Linked DNA regions of Homo sapiens: region 1 is linked to region 2. The links come from fine-mapping of genetic effects on gene expression. A gene starts in region 2. The other region holds a variant in brackets. All regions are shown on one strand. Distances are from middle to middle.

What was found. PIP is the estimated chance that this variant, and not a neighbour inherited with it, causes the effect.
Region 1: its variant is fine-mapped to the expression of RIN2 in fibroblasts (GTEx, PIP 0.91).

What each region holds. Positions count from the first base shown.
Region 1 is chr20:19,997,261-20,002,632 of GRCh38, forward strand. RIN2 (Ras and Rab interactor 2) reads left to right here. Exons shown (of 13, transcript NM_018993.4): 13 at 3,353-5,196. The coding sequence ends at 3,676. Among named protein-coding and RNA genes, the nearest start is that of NAA20, 17 kb to the right of the region's middle. The variant C/G (reference allele first, on the strand shown) is at 2,319.
Region 2 is chr20:19,755,614-19,760,985 of GRCh38, forward strand. RIN2 (Ras and Rab interactor 2) reads left to right here and starts at 2,645. Exons shown (of 13, transcript NM_018993.4): 1 at 2,645-2,714. RefSeq lists an enhancer at 3,034-3,608.

The sequences.
Region 1 (5,372 bases), 240 kb after region 2:
AAAACAGAAGACCCCAGAATCTCAGCAGCAGCAGCAACAGCTATGGCAGCCGTCCACGGCGCAGAGTGACCAGGCGAGCATCTGAGCGAGTCCTGCTCAGGTTCCCTGGCCAGGGCTTTTCCTGACCGTGAGCTGCTGCTTGGGAATGTGGGACTCCCAGTGAGCTTGTTTCTTAGAATGGACAGGTGGGTTAGGGCTATAGAAATCTTTACCCAAGGCCAGGCATCAGGGCTCACGCCTGTAATCCCAGCACTTTGGGAGGCCAAGGTGGGCAGATCACCTGAGGTCAGGAATTCGAGACCAGCCTGGCCAACACGGTGAAACCCTGTCTCTACTAAAAATACAAAAATTAGCTGGGTGTAGTGGCAGGCACCTGTAATCCCAGCTACTTGGGAGGCTGAGGCAGGAGAATCGCTTGAACCCAGGAGATGGAGGTTGCAGTGAGCCGAGATCACGCCACTGCACTCCAGCCTGGACAACAGAGTGAGACTTAGTCTCAAAAAAGAAACAAAGAAATCCTTACCCAACACAATTCCTGATTTGCTCATTGTCTATGAAATAATGAGTGAGTTGGCAAATGTCTGCAAATAATATTTTGAAGGTTTTAAATTAAATGATAAAACCTTCCTGTGGTTTGTTTCTATGTTCCCCATGATGAGTTTCCAAGCAGGGATGTGGAAAGCAAGACAGATTTGTCTACACATCCAGATTCACCTGCTTTTTTTTTTTTCTTAAGACAGAGTCTCGCTCTGTCACCCAGGCTGGAGTGCAGTGGTGGCACGATCTCTGCTCACTGCAACCTCCACCTCCCAGGTTCAAACGATTCTCCTGCCTCAGCCTCCGGAGTAGCTGGGACTACAGGTGCTCACCACCACACCTGGCTAATTTATTTTGTATTTTTAGTAGAGATGGGATTTCACCGTGGTGGCCAGGCTGGACTCAAACTCCTGGCCTCAACTGATCCACCCGCCTCAGCTTCCCAAAGTGCTGGGATTACAGGCGTGAGCCACTGCGCCTGGCCATTTTTTTTTTTTATAAGAGCTCTGAAAATAGAGGGTCAGATGAGGTGGCTCATGCCTGTAATCCCAGCACCTTAGAGGCTAAGGCAGGAAGATCGCTTGAGGCCAGGAGTTGGAGACCAGCCTTGGCAACAAAGTGAGACTCCATCTCGACAAAACAACCACAACAAAAAATTTTCAAGTTAGGTAGGCGTAGTGGTGCACACCTGTAGTCCCAGCTACTCAGGAGGCTAAAGTGGGAGGATCCGTTGAGCCCAGGAGTTTGAGGCTACAGTGAGCCATGATCACACCACTGCACTCCAGCCTGGGCAGCAGAATGAGACCCTGTATCAAAAACAAACAAACAAAAAGGCAAGCCCATCTTTGAAAGCCAAGATCAGCTCATTCTTCTCCATGATTGCAGTATGCTCAGAAATTCCTTCTGGAGCGCATAAACCTAAAGAGTGAGAATACACGCACTGCACTCTCCCCACCCTGTTGCACTAAGAAGGTCCCTGTGCCACTCAGTGCCTGCAGACCCCTGGGGTGCCATCATATAGCCATCCAGGGAGGGGCTGCCTAGGGCAGAACAGAGGAAGTGAAAAAAGTTCATTGTTCCTTTCCCCACCTGCCAACACACCCTCCTCCACCTCTTCACCTGGAGACCCTCAGACACCATAGAGCTGCCTTCTTCTGCAGCCGTCCCCTCCTGCCCTCATTGACCCTGCTCACCTTGGAGGTGCATGCCTTCTCAGAGTGTAACCGAAGAAGGAAATGTTCAGCACTCGGCTCAGGGGTCAAAGCAAAACCTCAGACCCAAAGCTCCATCTGGAACCCCTAAATCAGAGGCCACAGACACAGAGGTCTTCTCACATGGGAAGAGGTAGTACGTCTTGGTGGTAAAGGCGGTGGGGCTGCATCTGCCACGTCCTAGCTGTGTGGCTTTGGGCAAGTTACGTAGCCTCTCTGTGCCTCAGTTTCTGCACTAGTCAAACAGGGATTATGTAGACCCTGTCTCTTAAAAAAAAAGGTTCAAAGAGTGTCACTGTCAATCTGGGCACCTCCCACTAGCTCACCTCTCCTGCAAAGTCACTGGGCTAGCAAAAGTCCCCACTGGAAGCAGATATGAAACATATCTTACATGTGCAGAGCTCACTGTCCTTCCCAAGAGCTTTCCCTTCTGTTATCCCAGGAAACCCTCGTGGTGACCTTGCAGGCACCTGGGCAGAGAGCCCTCCTTCCCTTCACTGCTGAGCAGGGTTGCCAGATTTAGCAGAAAAAAATCTATTTGTTTTCTAGCTGAAACTCAAATTTAACTGG[C/G]TGTTCTAGATTTCATCTGATAACTCCACTGTTAAGGAAACAGAAGCAAAGTTATCTGGGGTCACAAAATCTAGGAGAGCCTGATGTGAGTTTAAGATTCTTTATGCCTGGTCTGGGCTTTGTATCTTGTAAGGCCACAGGTTTACATGTTTCATGATAGCATGTACCTGGCATGATTGCAGCACCTGAGCCTGCAAACGTCTTTGTTTAATTCCCTGCAGCACCACCTTGCATGTAATCAGCTCCATCTGCAAAGTATTTGGCAAAATCAACATTCTTCTCCTTCTGACTTTTTCCACATTGTGCCCAGAGCCACTAGGAGCCTTGTATTAGATTGAACTACATGAAATCACCATTTGGGGGAGATAAAAAATAGTCAAAAGTCAGCGCATTTTGTGTGTGTGTGATTCAACCTAAATGATTGCCCTTGCTTAGGATTTATTTAAAAAGTTTGTCAAAAGTGAACACAAGCCAGGTACAGTGGCATGCACCTGTACACCTAGCTACTCAGGAGGCTGAGGCAGAAGGATCACTTGAGCCCAGCGGTATGAGTCCAGCCTGGAGAATATAGTGAGATCTCATCTCTTAAAATGAAAAGAAGAAAACAAAAAGTGAGCACAGTACGTGCTTTTGTGTCTAGATATTTTAAATCTCTTTCTGCTGACTTCCTTCATACTCTTGTGCTATTTGGTTTAGTTTTCAAGCTGGGAATAAACCCAGCATTGGATGTGGTTCACACTCTTAAGCAGGGGTTTCTTAACCAGACCTTATGAGGGAAATGGAAAGATCAGAACCAGGGCTGCATGGACTTCCTGCTTCTTACAGTTGCAATGAATCATGTAGTCATCTTCGCCACTGTCCAAAGTCAGATCAGCCTCTTTCCTTGCCATTCGAAGCCTCGTGGCCTGACATCGGACATTATGACAGGAAAGGGCCTGGAAATGGCTTACAGTTACCCCCTCCCCTGGTCCCCCATCATGCTCACTATCTAGTTTTCTCTTCTGACTGTCTCAACATTCCTCTTCCACCTGCAGAATTACCTCCGAGTTGCATTTCAGGAGGTCAACAGTGGTTGCACAGGAAAGACCCTCCTTGTGAGACCTTACATCACCACTGAGGATGTGTGTCAGATCTGCGCTGAGAAGTTCAAGGTGGGGGACCCTGAGGAGTACAGCCTCTTTCTCTTCGTTGACGAGACATGGCAGCAGCTGGCAGAGGACACTTACCCTCAAAAAATCAAGGCGGAGCTGCACAGCCGACCACAGCCCCACATCTTCCACTTTGTCTACAAACGCATCAAGAACGATCCTTATGGCATCATTTTCCAGAACGGGGAAGAAGACCTCACCACCTCCTAGAAGACAGGCGGGACTTCCCAGTGGTGCATCCAAAGGGGAGCTGGAAGCCTTGCCTTCCCGCTTCTACATGCTTGAGCTTGAAAAGCAGTCACCTCCTCGGGGACCCCTCAGTGTAGTGACTAAGCCATCCACAGGCCAACTCGGCCAAGGGCAACTTTAGCCACGCAAGGTAGCTGAGGTTTGTGAAACAGTAGGATTCTCTTTTGGCAATGGAGAATTGCATCTGATGGTTCAAGTGTCCTGAGATTGTTTGCTACCTACCCCCAGTCAGGTTCTAGGTTGGCTTACAGGTATGTATATGTGCAGAAGAAACACTTAAGATACAAGTTCTTTTGAATTCAACAGCAGATGCTTGCGATGCAGTGCGTCAGGTGATTCTCACTCCTGTGGATGGCTTCATCCCTGCCTTCCTTCCTTTCTTTTTCCTTTTTTTTTTTTTTTTTTTTTTTTTTACAAAGAGCCTTCATGTTTTTATATATTTCATAGAAATTTTTATAGCAGTTGCAGGTAAACTGTCAGGATTGGTTTTAAAATATTTTTGTAACTTTAAAATATTCTATAATTATGCATGTGATTTTAACATTTAATATTCAAAAATAAATCTCTTGCTGGATTTGAGAGTATTGCATTTTTAAAGTCTCTCTTCTGTAACTGGATGTTTTGGCAACTTTGTGGGGAGAGACTGCTGGATTTCTTAAAGCAACGTATTCCTGACACTGGCCACAGAATGCCTTTGGAAATCGGATGTACTGTTCTCTTGTTCACGTTTAGTGGTGTTTTGCTGTTTTGTTTTTTAAACAAATGATGCTGAGAATAAGGAGAGAAATGAATGTAGAGAGAGGTAGAGAGAGAAATATGAACTCTAACAAAGGACTGAGGAGTGCAGTCTGCTGGTTCAGGCTCTTCAAAAGATGTAGAAAAAGAGATAGAAGGAACCACCTATGCTTAAAATACTGTAAATATGCAGTGAGGTTTGGCAAAATCTATTCCATGTGTGATTTGCTTGTAGAAACAATTTTGAAAGCCCCTTGAGGAAAATAAAAATCAAGAAGAACACTTTTCTCCCTTTTCCATACAAATTAAAACTTAACAGCATCAAATTATTGGGACCAGAAACCAAGTAATGTATAATGTGGCTTTTGTTGAGTTAAATAAGATGCTATATAATGGAGAAGAATTTGAAAATGCACAAAAAAATCAATCTACATTATCAGAACCTGCAGTGAAATTAAACTTATGTTAAATAAAACCAGTTTGCAGGTGCACAAACTATGAGGGTCTTGTATCCACGTAACACAGGTAGTTACAAAAACATGTTATTGTACTGTGTAAAGATGCATAGTCATCTCATTTGGTTGGCTTTGTACCTTGTACCTTTTTTAGCCTTGGCTTTTGTTGAACTAGAACCCTCAGCACATACTGTGTTGTACTTTTGTAAATGATTTTTTAAATGGAATTTTGCACATAATACATTGTAATACTGTATGATAATCATGTGTGAAAATAATTTTTGAAATATCCTTTGGCTGTTTTTTTTTTTCTTTAGAGTAAGAATATATTCATGCACCACGCAGTGTCATGGACAGATGAAATCCGAACCAGGGTTTGTGGTTAGACAATGTATCGTGGGGGTGAGCAGAAAAGCTCACATTTCTCAGAAGCTCCTCCTGATATGGGGCAAAAGTTAAGGAGCAGA
Region 2 (5,372 bases):
AAAGAGTAGAGACATGGAGAAGGGGTGGGGAGTTCTTGCCCTCCAGAAAAGCAGAGAAAGGGTTGGGGCACGGAAATAAGGGATTGGGGCACAGAGATAAGAGGTTGGGGTGCGGAAATAAGCGATTGGGAGGTTCTTGCCCCTAGGAAAGCGGGACTTGCCGCTAAGGGTGAAGGAGAAGGGGTTGAGGGGTACTTGCCCCTGCCCCAGGAAAGGCAGAGAAGGGGTAGAGACAAGGAGAGAAGGGGTTGGGGTACTTGCCCCTTCCCCAGAAAAGCAGGACTTGCCGCTAAGGGTGAAGGACCAAGGCAGGCGTCCCTGCGTGGTCTGACACCCTTGAAACGTGGGTGTATAATCACAGAGGCATCCCTGCAATGATTAAACACCAAGGGAAGGCTGCCTTCCCAGTCCGTGACCGGCGCCGGAGTTTTGGGTCCACGGATAAAACGTGTCTCTTTTGTCTCTACCAGAAAATGAAAGGAATTGAAATTAAGAGAAGGGAGAGATTGAAGTGTAGCGCCAAGATTGAAAGGAGAAAGAGGTTGAGGGATAGTGAGGCAAGTTGGAGAAGAGAGTAAAAAGAGGCCGCTTACTGGATTTGAAATTGGTGAGATGTTTCTTGGGCTGGTCGGTCCTGAGGTCGTAGGTGGATCTTTCTCACAGAGCAAAGAGCAGGAGGACAGGGGATTGATCTCCCAAGGGAGGTCCCCCAATCTGAGTCACGACACCAAATTTCATGCGCGTCCGTGTGAAGAGACCACCAAACAGGCTTTGTGTGAGCAACATGGCTGTTTATTTCACCTGGGTGCAGGTGGGCTGAGTCCAAACAGAGAGTCAGCAAAGAGTGGTGGATTATTATTAGTTCTTATAGGTTTTGAGATAGGCGGTGAAGTTAAGAGCAATGTTTTGTGGGCAGGGGTGGATCTCACAAAGTACATTCTCAAGGGTGGGGAGAATTACAAAGAACCTTCTTAAGGGTGGGGGAGATTACAAAGTACATTGATTAGTTAGGGTGGGGCGGGAACAAATCACAATGGTGGAATGTCATCAGTTAAGGCTATGTTTACTTCTTTTGTGGATCTTCAGTTACTTCAGACCATCTGGATGTATACGTGCAAGTCACAGGGGATGCGATGGCTTGGCTTGGGCTCAGAGGCCTGACACACACCATCTATTTAATTCTGTGACCTGCTCCAGACACAAGCACTCTGGGCCCCCATATTCTTTTTCTTGTTTTCCCTATCACCGACCTCTTCCAACACCCCAAATAATTTACTTAGGGATGGCCATGGTTTACCCTCTGTCTCCCACTTCTTCCCCGCAGGCCTTCAGCTCCCCCAGGTGAGGGAGACCTTTGCTTTGTTCACCGACATATCCCAAGCATTAGAACTGCGCCTGGCACCAGCAGGTGTTCAATTATTTATTTAATGGGTGACTTGGAGCAGAAACCGAAGTGCAGTGGACTGTTTTCCTGGGATCTGAGCTGATGATAAATGATAAATAAGTCTTGGGATTTTAGAAGGCAGGAATCACGAAAACCAACACCAATGAAATCCAAGTCTCCTCTGCTACTATCTGAAGTGGAACAGAACAGAAATAAGGTCTGTTTTCTTTCCGCTTCGCTGTTCTGTTTCTGTCCAAAACAACCGTCTCTCTGACACCTTCGAGGTGTCCCTTTGTCTCTTTGAGGTTCCCTCCGTGACACTGGCTACTTTGTAACTCTAACACTGTCAGCAATTAATTCCCAAAGGTGAGGTCCCCGTGGGAAGTGGGAAAACCCAGCGAATCACCAGGGACCCGCCTGATTCCGAAAAGGCTGGATGCTGGCTGGGAACCGGCCCCGCAGCTCCGGCGTCCCCGCCTGCCTGCGCGGCCTTCAGCTGGGGTTACGGAGGGCTCCCAGCGCCGATCCAAACCGCGTTCCAGGCGGGGTGGGCGGGCCCCTGGCCAGCGAGGCCGAAGCAAAACAACCCGCCCAGGCGTCCAGAGCGTATCCAACCCTGGAGAACCTGCCCCGGAACCAAGAGCCGCAGCCAGCTCAGGCCTCTCGAGTGGGGCCTTTCCAGCCCCTGCAACAGATCCCGGGATCTGTAGTTGGGCGGAGGGGCTCGTTATGGGAAAGGGGTGCGTGCGCGTTTGTGCTAAAACAAGAAAGGCAAGAATCTCCGAGAACAAAACTCTGGTCCTCGCCTGGCCGGGGACCGCAGAAGACAGGGGCGGCAGCGCCAAGGCGGGTCAGGGGCCGGTCCAGCCAAGTTTGCTCCGGCTTAGATAAACTTTCTGATGGCAGTTTTTCCTGGTTGCAGCCTGGGTTCCTTGTAACAGGGTAAGCGTAGCGGGTGGTTGTCAAGAGGGGCGGAGGCTGGCGGTTACAGGGAATGGAGGGATGGGCCGGACCTGGGGTCGCGCAGGCGCCTTGGTCGCTGCCTCCGATCCGATCACCCCCGCCCCATCTCCTCTGCGAGCTCAGGAAGGTGGCTGGGGGAGGGGGATGGCTCCCTACTGCCGAGGGACGGCCCGAGGCAAACACAAAGCCCTTCCCTCCCCTCCTCCTCTTTCCTCTCCTCTCCCCTCCCCTCCCCTCCTTTCTCCCCCTTCCTCCTCTTCCTCCTCCTCCTCTTGCTCCTCCCGGGCGGGGAAACCCAGCCCCGCGCTCGTCTTTGGGGCCACCGGTCGCCCCCGCCTCCGGGACCTGCGGGGAGGGCCCGCGAGAGGTAAGGGGCGGTGGCAGCGGAGACCCCACCCCCTGTGCCCGCACCTAGAGAGCCCGGAGAGGCTCCGGGCACGGGCGGGGCTCTCTGGGGTTCCAGACGTGGGTGCTGCTGTGCGCACTCTCTCCCTACTCCGGAGGGGACTTGAGGAAGACAGCCAGAGCGCGTCCTCGGGGATCGTGGGGAACGGAAGGGGGAAGGGGGATCAGGGAGTGGGGACAAGGGGCAGAGTGACATTCCGGAGCGCGAGGTGGCCGCTGGTCCCGGCAGGGTCACCGGGTGTCCTCAGCTGACCTGTGCGGGGCTGGGGTGAGGGACAGCTGGAGGGTGCAGGCACTATGGCTCGAGGTGCGGAGGTGCGGGTGTGCGTGCGTGTGCACCGGACGGAGTTTGGTAGGGACCTTTGAGGAGTTCTACCTGCAGGGCTGCCTGTGGGGTGTCAAGTGCTCCCTGCGCCTGAGCGCGCGGGTCAGACCCGGTGTCGCACAGCTTTGATCCCCAGCGCGGACCCCACTGGTGAGTCCAGCCAGTGTGCAGGGCAGATGCTCCGACCGGAGATTTCCTCCCCCGGGTGGAAAAGCAGGAGGGTTGTTGTGTCCGGGCAGGGGGCACTTGGGCTGTCGCGGTGATTGATGGCTGCGCAGCGGGCGGAGGAGGAGCCCCGGATTCCTGCCGGGAAGGGACGGGGCCACTTTCCCACTTTGAGGCCTCCCCGCCCCCTTCTGGGCTTGGCCTCCACCCTTGGCCTGGGCTCCCACCAGCTCGGCGTCCACCCACCGGCGGTGGCGCGCCCCTCGACCGCGCGGGGACAGCAGGATTTGCAGAAGTTCAGCTTGAAAGCCTATGATATGTTGCCAAGAAATACAGGGCAAGATCGGTCCCCTGGGCCCTGAGAGGCGCCTGTCTTCTCAGAGCTCTTAAATCCCTGGGGCTTTCCTAATTCCGCAGTGTAGCGGCACTTCCTTGCGCGGTTTTGGGCACATTGGGGTTTCTTAGGAACACGCTGTCATCGGTAAGGAAACATCAGAGTACTCTTCGACCAAAAGGACTGTAAATACTGAAGCAAAAAGAAACACTTGCTGGGAGTGCAAAGGGCTTACTGGGAAAAAAGAAACACACAGGGCAGCACTCCATCATTAAGATAAATAGTATTTTAATACAATCTTTTTAACAAAACCAAATTGAATGTAAAAAATTCATGATAAGCAAAAATCAACATTTTAAATACAGGTGGGTGTTGTTAGAACCCTGCTTCATAGGCCGGGTGCAGTGGCTTATGCCTGTAATCCCAGCACTTAGGGAGGCCAAGGCAGGCAGATCACTTGAGGTCAGGAGTTCAAGACCAGCCTGGCCAACAGGGTGAAACCCCATCTCTACTAAAAATACAAAAATTAGCTGGGCCTGAAGGCATGTGCCTGTGGTCCCAGCTACTCGGGAGGCTGAGGTGGGAGAATCACTTGAACCTGGGGGCAGAGGTTGCAGTAAGCCGACATTGTGCCACTCCACTCAGCCTGGGTGACAGAGTGAAACTCTGTCTAAAAAAAAAGAACCCTGCTTCATTGTTCAATGGGAACAGTCATATCCAGTCTCCCTCCCCCACCTCCCCATTTGTTTGTTCCCTTGCCTGGTGGTTTGAGAGTTGACAGTGGCATGCAACAGATTGAGCAACTCTGGCTTCAGATGTAGTCACGTTCACTGAATGCAGAGCTTTTATTAACTTTTTACCTAATTCAAATGTAGGAGGATATTGTCATAAGTGGATATAGAGGTGCTAATTTTCCTTTTTGCCTCAGGTTCCAATATTGCCTCTGGAATACTCATGCACTCCCGTGCTTTGGCACCTCCAGAGAGAGCATCACAGGCTAGGGATGGGTAGGGTCCCGGGACAGTGAAGGGCCCTTGCTTTTGGAACTTGGGAAGAAGGCTGTTGACAGGAGCTTTTGGGTTTGGAGACTTGCTCTCAGTAGTTGGAGGCTGGAGACACGGGGAAAACCAACCTGCTATCAAGACCTTTGTCTGGAAACATTCTCCTGCAGACAGTTCATCAGAGCAGAGGAGGAAACTGAAATAGCCCACACTTGACCTCTAGTGTAGGGCAGGTGGGAGGGAGCTTGACTCCCAGGATGGCTATGGCGTGTGCTTATTTAAAGATAACTTCGCAGCAGCACTCTTATCCCCACCCAAGGTGTCCTGCCATACACCTTATCCAAAGTCAAGGGTCACTACCCACTTCAGGACTTCCACTTTCCAGAAAGAACCTCCTTGCTTAGCTAAACCCTCTTCCTCTGCTTGGAGGACACAGATGAATCAGGTATCACAGATGAAACACAGGGTATGCTACCCTGAGAGGTCCATGCTCGTGTGACCCATTAATGGGAGGCCCATTCTTCACATACTCTCTGTATTATAGTGCTTTGACCTTGTGCCCAATTCCCCTTGTATATCCAACCTACCTAATGAACCTTCAAGAATCCTAATAGTTTCAGCAAGAAAGATTTCCCCGACCCTGTCCTCCTTTCCCCAGTAAGACACCCCCTCACTGCCACCAGAATTCCTTGTGTGTGTGTATGTGTATGTATCTCTTAAAGCAATACAGTGGACCTCACTTGCCCACTGTCTGTAAGCTTCCCAGGGTCCAAAACCAGGCCATAGCCCTTAAGA